Homo sapiens: one gene and its partners. The protein of the gene in region 1 interacts with the protein of each later gene in a pairwise test. Each region holds a gene or a part of one and is shown in the gene's direction. Other genes may lie near its edges.

Evidence for each region.
Region 2: the proteins of PCYT1B (region 1) and ECPAS interact in a two-hybrid assay, tested with the Homo sapiens proteins (one large-scale study listed by BioGRID).
Region 3: the proteins of PCYT1B (region 1) and TMEM43 interact in binary tests that used the Homo sapiens proteins (3 or more experiments, as listed by UniProt).

Annotation. Positions count from the first base shown.
Region 1 is NC_000023.11:24,640,739-24,644,390, reverse strand, and holds part of PCYT1B (choline-phosphate cytidylyltransferase B), read left to right. Parts: intron 1-3,652.
Region 2 is NC_000009.12:111,369,269-111,372,920, reverse strand, and holds part of ECPAS (proteasome adapter and scaffold protein ECM29), read left to right. Parts: intron 1-300; coding exon 301-492; intron 493-1,091; coding exon 1,092-1,300; intron 1,301-2,155; coding exon 2,156-2,199; intron 2,200-2,293; coding exon 2,294-2,486; intron 2,487-3,652. UniProt on the Homo sapiens protein: Adapter/scaffolding protein that binds to the 26S proteasome, motor proteins and other compartment specific proteins. May couple the proteasome to different compartments including endosome, endoplasmic reticulum and centrosome.
Region 3 is NC_000003.12:14,138,529-14,142,180, forward strand, and holds part of TMEM43 (transmembrane protein 43), read left to right. Parts: intron 1-651; coding exon 652-769; intron 770-3,064; coding exon 3,065-3,267; 3' UTR 3,268-3,652. UniProt on the Homo sapiens protein: May have an important role in maintaining nuclear envelope structure by organizing protein complexes at the inner nuclear membrane. Required for retaining emerin at the inner nuclear membrane.

The DNA of each region.
Region 1 (3,652 bases):
CTTTGATTTACTTATGATACAAAATTTTCCACGTTGTTCATCATTGTCATGGGCTACTGAAATTTGACTCTGTTTAAACAGGGGCTTGCAACCAATTTATAAAACACTACTAAAATTTTCAAATTGCCTTCTCTCTTATTAGCTAACTTTGATCACTGTAGGGTTATATTCTAAATTTAGATTTATACTTTATAGCCTAACTTTCCTTTGCTAATGATCTTACTTTAATAACTAAGGCACATGCTAACTACTTAATAAAAAAGTTTGTTGATGAAGAGAGTGAGCAGCAAGTGAAAACATGAAATTAGCATTTCTTTCTCTGGTTTTTAGTAGTTTCTGTTGATCTTGTAGCTTTGCTAGTGTCTTCATATTTCAAATTGTATAAATTCTGCATTTCTCCCAGCACCCAGGCATATAGCTCCAAATTGTATGTGGGTCACTGACACCACAGCCATCAACAGAGTGTGGCTACTGAGTTGCTTAACTAACTATGGAAAGTGTATGAAATATTTGCAGGGGGCCTGTTTAGGATTGAAGCTCCACACTTGGATTCTCCTTCAGAGGGCAGGCTCCTTCTCCTAGTTGCTGAAATGAAGTGGGGAGCTGGCATACGTGAGTGAATAAATAGACTTTAAAGCAGTCTATATTTTAGATCCCTGTAAGTAACAAATTGATAATAATATTGCAGATATGATTGAATTATATTTCAAGGGGAAGTTCTTCTGCCAGGAAAACTTGTAGTTTCTCTACCTGCCTTATTCTTCATTAGAGGAAAATATAAGAAAGGAGACGATTAAATAGAATGCAGTAACTCTGATAAAGAAATTAGAAAAGAAATAACAAAAGCATTACCTAGGTTTTATGATAGAGCCTATATTTTAGGAATATAATCTTACTACTCTTACCATTTTACCATGGTGCTCTGATTTGAGATGCTTCTGAGAACTCTTTACATTGTTACAATGTTTACTCTTGATTCTTGACTTGTTTTCAGTTCTTTACTATTTTCCTGATTAAACATGATGCAAGGTGACTCATCAGCTTGACTGTCAAGATGAGAAACTGAGTGGCCTTGGGTGATATGATGTAATAGCCCTTCTTGGAAATCTAACTCCTGAGATACAAGGACTCCTCTGAGCAAGGACTGTGTCCTCATATCTTCCCAGCCCTCAGATTATGCCTAGAAAGATCCTCTGGGCTCAGCAGGTGTCCCAGAAGCCCTTTCTAACAAGGCCCAGCCACCCTGAAAGTTGTCTGCTTGAGAATTTGGTTAATGACCTTGGACAAGTTCTTCTAGGGGTGCATTCTGTTGTCAGAAGGAATTGTAATTCTAGACTGCAATAGTCACTTCCATGAAGATGGATATACTATGGATCAACTGAGAAGGCCTTGGAAATAAAAAAGGGTTGGTTCAACATGCCACATTAGCAGGAGGAGTTCATTTCGGGTTTTACTTCAAAGTGGAGCAGTGCCAAGAGACTGCTGTCTTGCAGAAGGTGCATTATGTCAGTTTGGAGGTAGCATGCTCATCTGCTAGTATTCAAAAAGATGACCAGATTTCCAGAGACATCAATGGCTTCCTTTGCTAATATTGCCATCTACTTAGCCACCCAGAACAGCATACATTTTAAAAGTGAAACACTCTTAATGCGCAATATTGGCGAAAATAAACAAACGTGAGCTTCCTTGGGTATTTACTGTGGTCAACTGGAATTCTGCCTAAGGTTATTATTAGGTATCTTCCTGCTGGTCTCTATCCAAATGCAACATCCATGTCTTGCAAATTGATACTAGTCAGGTGTATTTAGCATGGAATCAATCAATTAGTTTCTTCCATTCTTTTAGGTTTGTTCTCTCACTACCCCTCCAACCCAATTTGCCTAATGCTAAACCCTTATGGAAGAAATAAACCTAAATCAAATATAATAGGTAGCTTCTGTGTTTTATTTTGATGATTTAGCATATAGAAATCAAAAGAGTGCATGTATATGTCCTCAATCAGGCAGTGAGGAAGATTTAAAGTATTTAGCAATGCAGAGTTTTGGAAGATAACTGAGAGAAAACTGAGTCTCTTACCAATCCTTACCAACCCCTACCATCCCCTTACCCATGGGATCCACAGTCAGCCAGGTGGTTAACAACTTCCAGACACAGCAATGCACCAGGTGCTGTGGAGAGAAATAAAAGAAGTGAATCCAAACCCCTTGCCCCTAAAGGGGCATTTCCGTTTAATAGAAGGTAGTAGTTTGGTTTGTGGAAGCATGCCAGGATGCTGAAATCCCTTAAGAGAGCTTTTTTGTAAGTTTGACTTTAACATATTAGACTTTCTTAAAAGCTATTTTTTATCCATTGAGGGGAAGTACTTCCCAGCAGGGAGGACTCTGTTAACCCAATCCCCAAGTTAAGAAAAGTCCCTGCATTTGAAGAAAAGGTTTTACTTGCTCACCCCAATACATATTTTGGGACATGGAAAGGATCAATCCATTTTTGAGTGGATCTTAAGCCCCCATTGTGGGTCACATACTGGCCTAGAACTCTAGAACAGCTCTGCCCAGTAGAAATACAGCATGAGCCACATGTGTAATTGAAAATTTTCAAGTGGCCACAGTTTTAAAGGTTAAAAAAGGTGAAATTAATTTTGTATCCAAAATATTATGTCAGCATGCAATATAAAAATTATTAATGAGATCTTATATTATTTTCTTCATACTAAGTCTGAAATCCAATGTGTATATTGTGCTTGCAATACATCTCAATTCGGACTAGCTAATTTCAAGTGCTCAGTGACTACATGTGGCTTTACAGGGAGCTTAGACACTTGTCCAGCCCTGTTAGGATCAGTTCTGAGGACCTACAATGATAAATACTTTTCATGTTGCACAGTTCACGTATACATATATGTAGTCATAACTAAAACCAAACATCACTTTTCCTTACTTCATGTTTTGCACTCTTATACTTTCTATGCTATCCTATCTTATTCTATTTCAGTTAAGAGACTGTTGCAGTAATCTAGATGAGAGTTAATAAGTTTGAAATTATAGAAGGACAGTGGGAAAGGAGAGAACTAGATGGATATGGGAAACACTAAAGAGATAAATGCCCCAAGATTTGATAACTAAGTCTGAGCATGGGGCAGGTTCAGTGAAAGATCAAGGGGCCAGGCGCAGTGGCTTATGCCTGTGATCCCAGCACTTTGGGAGGTGAGGCAGGTGGACCACTTGAGGTCAGGAGTTCAAGACCAGCCTGGCCAACCTGGTGAAAACCCATCTCTACTAAAAATACAAAAATTAGCCGGGTATGGTAGTGTGCTCCTGTAATCCCAGCTACTTGGGAGGCTGAGGCAGGAGAATCGCTTGAACCCGGGAGACGGAGGTTGCAGTGAGCCGAGATCATCCCTCTGCACTCCAGCCTGAGTGACAGAGCGAGACTCCATCTCAAAAAAACAAAAAGATCAAGGAAGGCACAGTTTGTTTTCTGGCTCCAACTAGTGAGTGCCATCACTGAGATGGGTGTGCCAGGGAAGTAGAGTTTGTGAGAGTTATGTCTGAGGTGCCATGGGGACTTCCACTTGGAGGTGTCTAGTTCATGTTTGGTTGGGGAACTCAGGAGAGAGTTCTGAGCTGGAGATATAGATCTGGGAGATAGCATG
Region 2 (3,652 bases), on another chromosome or scaffold:
AGCTGGAACTACAGGCACGTGCCACCACGCCTGGTTAATTTTTGTATTTTTTGTATAGGTGGGGTTTCGCCATGTTGCCCAGGCTGGTCTTAAACTCCCGAGCTCAAGCTATCTGCTCACCTTGGCCTCTCAAAGTGCTGGGATTACAGGTGTAAGCCACCACAACCCAGCCTGCTAGAAACATTTCTAATTGATTTTACCTGTTTGTTTTGCTATTATATGAGTTGAACAATAGCCTGTTTAGATCAGTTACCCTTAAAAACAATAAATATCGTAAAGATTTTGGTTTCTCCTTTTCAGAACCTATCTACAAGACCTCTTGTGCTTTGACTATTCATGCTATTGGACGATACAGCCCTGATGTATTAAAGAATCATGCAAAAGAAGTCCTGCCTCTGGCATTTTTAGGCATGCATGAAATTGCTGATGAGGAGAAATCCGAAAAAGAAGAATGTAATTTATGGACCGAAGTGTGGCAGGAAAACGTACCTGGTTAGTAGTGTGGCCTGAGTTAAACCTGCTTCTTAGGAATCACAGCTAGAATTTTTTACTTGCATTCGTTATTCATAAACTCCTCTGAAGTTACTTTCCCAGGACCTTAATATGCATCCCATTTAGTTTTAAACCCATCCAAATTGCTCATCCCATTTAGTTTTGAACCCATCCAAATTGCTGAGTTCTCAAGGTTGGCACTCAGGATTTTTGTCTTTACTCATTCATCACTGCCCACATGAGAGAATATAAACCCTGTGAGCAAGGAGAGCTTTACATTTTTAATTAAGAGTGTGATTTTATGTGGCCTTAGAGTATTTTAGAGTAGTTTTCTAAATGTGTTTTTCACCTTGTCGCATATTAATTGATGATGCCCATTTGTGTGATACGTTCCTGTGGGCACCCAAGTTCGTAAAGTTCTACTATTGTGAGAATAAGTCACAACACCAACACACTTTCTCTCCCTTTGAGAGAGTGGTGTGTTTTAACAGTTGAGAGTCACTGCTTTTAGACTGTTGGTCACTGACTTTTTTTCAGGTTTAGAAAAATCAGTTAATTTTTCTTGTCACTTAAAAGTTGTTTTAATTTTGCTTTCCTAGGATCCTTTGGTGGCATTCGATTATACCTGCAGGAGTTAATTACTATTACCCAGAAGGCTTTGCAGTCTCAGTCCTGGAAAATGAAAGCCCAGGGTGCAATTGCCATGGCATCAATTGCAAAACAGACTAGCTCTCTAGTACCTCCATATCTCGGAATGATACTGACCGCATTGCTGCAAGGCCTGGCTGGAAGAACGTGGGCAGGAAAGGTAAAGGAACCATTCATACCCAGTTAAAGGGATTCTGACTTCATCTTTCATTTTGCATAATAGTAACGATCTGGTTTTGTGTAACTTTTCCAATGGATTATTTTTGTGAACTAGATTTCCTAGACAGTGGAAGCTTTGGGTAAACCTTGCCTGATTAACTGTGGTATTTCCTCTCAAACTGCAACCCGTGTGGCCTTGCATAATGGACAGTAATGCTGGAGATAGATACATTTTCCATATTCAGCCTTCCAAGTTACGTCTTAAACCAACTTGTCAGCATTTTGTACCTGTTGACCTCATGAACAGATCAGGATTGGGCATAGAAAGATCAGGATTGGGCATATGTGAAATAGAGTAGCAAGGTAGCCTGCCTCTAAACCTGGGGCTGAAGATGCCCATCTCTGGGACCTATGAATTAGTAACAGTTATTTTTTTACACAAGAGCTTTAGTAGGATTCTTAACAGTGAACACTCAGTGGGGAACATGAGATTGTGGTAACCTAATGATCTTTATGTTGTAAAGGTCAATAGTGGCCCATGCAGGAATGAAGTAGTACCGGACTGGGAGTCAGACATCATTCCAATTCTGTGGTTGACACTGTTTTCTGTGAGACCTGGGTCGAATCAGTTCTTTAGGCTTCTATGAAATGGAGGTGAAGATAATTATCCTACATCCATGGTTTGGAGTAAAACTTGGTGGATGTGCTTAAAATTATGCATTAAAGATAAGGTGACTGTTGTTAATTTTTGTTGTCATAGTTATCAAAAATTCCTAAGGTAATTGTAATCATGGTTTAGACAGTGTAAATGACATGTTTGGGCTTAATAGTATTTCCTCATCTTTCAACCCCTTAGGAGGAGCTATTGAAAGCCATTGCCTGTGTGGTGACAGCTTGCAGGTAAATGTTCTTTCAATGAAGATGCCATTTCTTAAACTGGACCCGAAAACTGCAGCCTTTATTAACTTCTGATGCTTTTGTATGGACCCTGTAGTGCAGAGCTGGAAAAGTCTGTGCCCAATCAACCCAGCACAAATGAAATTCTTCAAGCTGTTCTGAAGGAATGTAGCAAAGAGAATGTCAAATACAAGATTGTAGCAATCAGCTGTGCAGCTGATATCTTGAAGGCCACCAAAGAGGACAGATTCCAGGAGTTCTCTAACATTGTCATACCTCTCATCAAGAAGGTAATACCACCTGTATCCTCAGTTCTGGTTTATACTTTAAAAAGAAAAAGTTAAAAAATTGTTTTCCCCTATGTCCTGATTATTAGGATTAGTTTAGCTGCAAGTAGCAGAGAAATTCCAAAATACGGCCTTAAACAAGATAGTCAATGCTATGTTTCTCACAAAGCGTTGGGAGCATCACAAAGTGTTCAGGTATTCCGTCTCTTTACAGCTCTGAACTCTGCCATTTCTAGGGTGTGGTCATCATCCTCATGGTCCACAGTGTGTTTGTGTTCTAGGCAGGAATGCAGAGGAGATGAAGCAAGGATGAAGGATACAGTGGGCATGCCATGTCTCTCTTGAGGAGAGTTCCTGGGCACCGCTAGATGGCACTTTGACTTATAGCCATCCTGTTGGTCAGTACTTAGCCACACCTGGCAGCAGACTGAGTCTTCATTCTGGGTGTCCATTTGCCCTCCATGGGAGAAGGGGAGAGTGGATTTGGTAGTGAATGAACAGTTTATGTCATAATAAGCTTTGCCTTGGCTAATAAGCTAAGCCACCCCAGCCATCCTAGAGTAAAGGCAAGAAGCTCAGTGTGCCATGTGAATTGCCTCTGCCATATAGTGGAGGATTTGGGTCAAAAAAAGACTCAAGTTTCATGTGGAAAATGGAATACTCATTTTTAAAAGTTGGGCACTGGTCCCCCCCCCAAAAAAAAGGGTGTGGTTTCCCTGTTTATTTGTGAAACATGAAATATTTTAAGTAACATTCTTATTTCTTATTGCTCCTAAATTGCAGTTGTTTTCTTTCAGTAATAAGGCTATTTAAATAATTTCCATTACAAACATAGTGATAGCATATGGATTTGGGAGACTTGTGTTTTAAGTTGATTACATCACTAGCAAGCTGGACCAGTTGCTTCTCTTAGCCTCTGTTTCTCTATCAAGAAAGAGTTTGGATTTAGATCATTACTGAGTTTCTTCCATCTTTAAAATCTGATTCTAATGCAAGTCTTTTCATGTTATGCTCAAAAGACTACATATGCAGTATTTTTTAGCTTTTGTTTACAGATGCCTGTAAAGTATTGCCTAAATTTATTAGAGATACAGTATTCTGGTTATAAATTCTTGTTGTAAATAGGGAAACTTATGGTAGAGAATTTATCATTTAACTCTTGGTTAATA
Region 3 (3,652 bases), on another chromosome or scaffold:
AGTGTCAGCACTAGACAGGCTGAGATGTCAAGTGGAAATGTCAAGGAGGTGGTGGAGGTGGTGGGAGCTGCAGGGCTGTGAGGCCCGGGAGAGGGCCAGAGCTGCAGCTTTAAATTGGAGGGTCACGGCATGTGGAGGCCAAGGAAGCAGATGGGATGTCCGGGGAGAGAGTATGGACTGAAGCAGCTAAAGAATTGCAGCATCTAATGGACAGGAAGAGGGGCAGCGACAGCGATGGAGCCTGAGAAGGAGGGTGCAGTGTCCCCAAGCCATGTGGAGAGGTTCTGAGATTAAACAGATCACACACATAGCGCAGAGCATGCTGCCCAGCAGACATCCTCCAACCTGCTCAGGGGTGGTGGGCAGGGTCCTGCTCATTCCAGGTGAGACCGTGGGCTGAGGGCTCCAGGTGCTGGCAGGCTCTGAGCTGAGGAAGGCCCGTACGTTCCACAGAGATCTCATGCCTTGCCCTGTGCTCTGCCAGATGGGCAGAAGGACTTAGCCCTATAGGAGGCTTGCCCCCACTCCGTCTGGCCTGTTCAGAAATGGCCAACAGCTCCCGAGTTGGTACAGCCCCCTCAGGACCTGCCCTGCCGACTGGGTACGCCACTGGCCCTCAGCATCCTGACCTGCCCCCACCTTGTCCTGCAGGAGGTGTTTCATAGAGAACTAAGGAGCAACTCCATGAAGACCTGGGGCCTGCGGGCAGCTGGCTGGATGGCCATGTTCATGGGCCTCAACCTTATGACACGGATCCTCTACACCTTGGGTAGGTGTTGGGGTGGGTCACTGCCCTCCCTCCTGCACCCTGAAAGGGCCTCCTCTGCCTGTCGCATCATCTCAGCCCTTCCAGCCTGATGGGATGGCCCTTGTGCAGATACCAGGCATTTGGCTCATCTCTGTGTCCCCGCTCCATAGCCTTGGGATGAGGGAGCAGAGGAAGGCAGGCTTGAGGGCAGGAGCTGCCAGGGGCCAGGCTGGGTGGGGCCAACTCTGGGGCACTGGTCTCACTCCACAGCCTGAAGGTTCGTCCATCTGCTGGCTCGATCATTTGCTCATTCCTTTGATCCACAATTGAATACCACATGGGAGCCTGCCAGACCTGCATTTGAAATCTGTCACGTCCAAGCTCTGGATGCTTGGCCGTTCCCTTCCCATCTCAGCTTCAGTCACCTCACCCCTTACATGCAGAGTTTTATGAAATGTGGCAAATAGGAAACACCCAAAACTCTCATGCTTCCTTCCTCACTCCAAAACCTGGGCTAGATTTGGGCAGCCAGCAAGTCTGGAGCATGAAGGAGAGTTCTGGGCCACTCCTTGACCTGAGGTTGGCACCAGTGAGCCCAGTAGGAGACCTGTGGCCCAGCGTGGTTCGGGATCTGAGTGCCCAGGGTGACTAAGTGCGTTCTGGGCCCAGGAGGATGGGGTTCCTCGGAGGACTCTCCATCCAAGCCTTTCCCTGGTGTGTGTCCCTTCCAGTCACATGATTGCATCAGTCTTCTCTGGGTGCCAACAGAAACCTCTTCCCCACTCAGCATGCACAAGTCAGAAGAGGTCTGGCTGCACATCTTGGGCTGTCTGAGCTGGGGGGACCACCTCCTTTGTTTACAGTTGGGAAAACAGGCCCGGGAAGGGAAGGACTCTCCCTGAGCCTTTCTTTGGACAGCTGAATTGTGCTCAGAAAGACCAGTGACGTGGTGGGCACATTAGCGAGAGATGAGCATTTAAACGGAATCCTCTTTCTTGCCTGTGTGACCCTGGGGAGACCAGTTCCCTTCTGGAGCCTTGGTTTCCTCGTGTCTGTCTCAGTGGGCCCTTCTTTGGATCTCTGATGTCTGTGATCCCAATTCACTCTACGTCTGGAATGCGCCAGACTCAGGACAGACTTAGAGTGTGGAGGGACCCCCAGGGTGGGTGGGGAGAGTTGGGAGCGCAGCAGGGAAGCACACAGTTCCCCATGCGTTTGATAAATACCAACGTGTGTAAGACTCCACAGCTAGAGACAGACAAGACTTAGAGCAACAGCTCAGAGCCCAGGCTCTGGGCCCATACGGTCTTGAGTTCAAATCCTGGTTCTGGCACTTTCTAACAGGAGGACTGGTGGTGAGTTTCTTAATTCCCTGAGTCTCAGTGACCCTGTGGGTAAAATGGAGTTAAGAAGAGTACCTACCTTACAGGGTGGGCATGAGTGCTTCATGAGATGGTGCACATGGTGCCTAACACAGGCAACGTTCAGAAACATGAACTTTGCTTATTATAAGGGCTGAGTAGCAGTGCTGTATGGGAACAGATCAGGATGAGGCCAGGTAGTGGCTTGCAGGGTGTGCTGCAGGCATGGTGGGGCACCAGGGCTTGCTCTGCAAACCCAGTGATTCCAGACCATTGGTGGCCTCCTGGGAACTGAGCGAAGATTCCCTGAGTGGACATCAGCTATGGAATGCCAACCTGGAGAGGTCACACAAGGCAAGAATAGGGTAATTCCTCATGAATTTAGCTGGATTCTGGGCTTTATCCTATTGGACCAATAGTCTGTGAGATTCTTGAGGAGAGGCCAATGCTTAGGCTAATTTATTTCCTCTAGCACCTGCTGGTTCAGTGCTGGGCACATAAATCATTAGTAACAGCCTGCTGCATGAATGAACCAACACCTCTAGGAATGGCTGAGAGGCCCAAATAGGCACCTTCAGGAGGCTCCACCCACAGCCTCTTGTATGAGTGTGCAGGACCCAGGTTATTTCTAGCATTACAGGCAAATGTCTTTATACTGGCCTCAGACTACTCTCCACATAAAGTATTAAAGTTTACAAAGCACTGCTACATCCTCTCCCCTGGATCAGGGTAGAGTGGGTGGCTTAGGCAATGTGCCCAACCACGCAGCTCATAGCAGAGGCTCCTGTGCTCCCTTAGCTTTCAGAACGAAGCTCCTTGCCTTCCACCCACTGATCCTCTCCCCTCCTCATGCATGTAGCAACATGGGCCCATCCTCATCTAGGGACAGGAGAGATCTGCTGAGCTGGTGAGGTGTAGAGCAGGTGGCACCTCATCACCTTTCTCCTTTCCACAGTGGACTGGTTTCCTGTTTTCCGAGACCTGGTCAACATTGGCCTGAAAGCCTTTGCCTTCTGTGTGGCCACCTCGCTGACCCTGCTGACCGTGGCGGCTGGCTGGCTCTTCTACCGACCCCTGTGGGCCCTCCTCATTGCCGGCCTGGCCCTTGTGCCCATCCTTGTTGCTCGGACACGGGTGCCAGCCAAAAAGTTGGAGTGAAAAGACCCTGGCACCCGCCCGACACCTGCGTGAGCCCTAGGATCCAGGTCCTCTCTCACCTCTGACCCAGCTCCATGCCAGAGCAGGAGCCCCGGTCAATTTTGGACTCTGCACTCCCTCTCCTCTTCAGGGGCCAGACTTGGCAGCATGTGCACCAGGTTGGTGTTCACCAGCTCATGTCTTCCCCACATCTCTTCTTGCCAGTAAGCAGCTTTGGTGGGCAGCAGCAGCTCATGAATGGCAAGCTGACAGCTTCTCCTGCTGTTTCCTTCCTCTCTTGGACTGAGTGGGTACGGCCAGCCACTCAGCCCATTGGCAGCTGACAACGCAGACACGCTCTACGGAGGCCTGCTGATAAAGGGCTCAGCCTTGCCGTGTGCTGCTT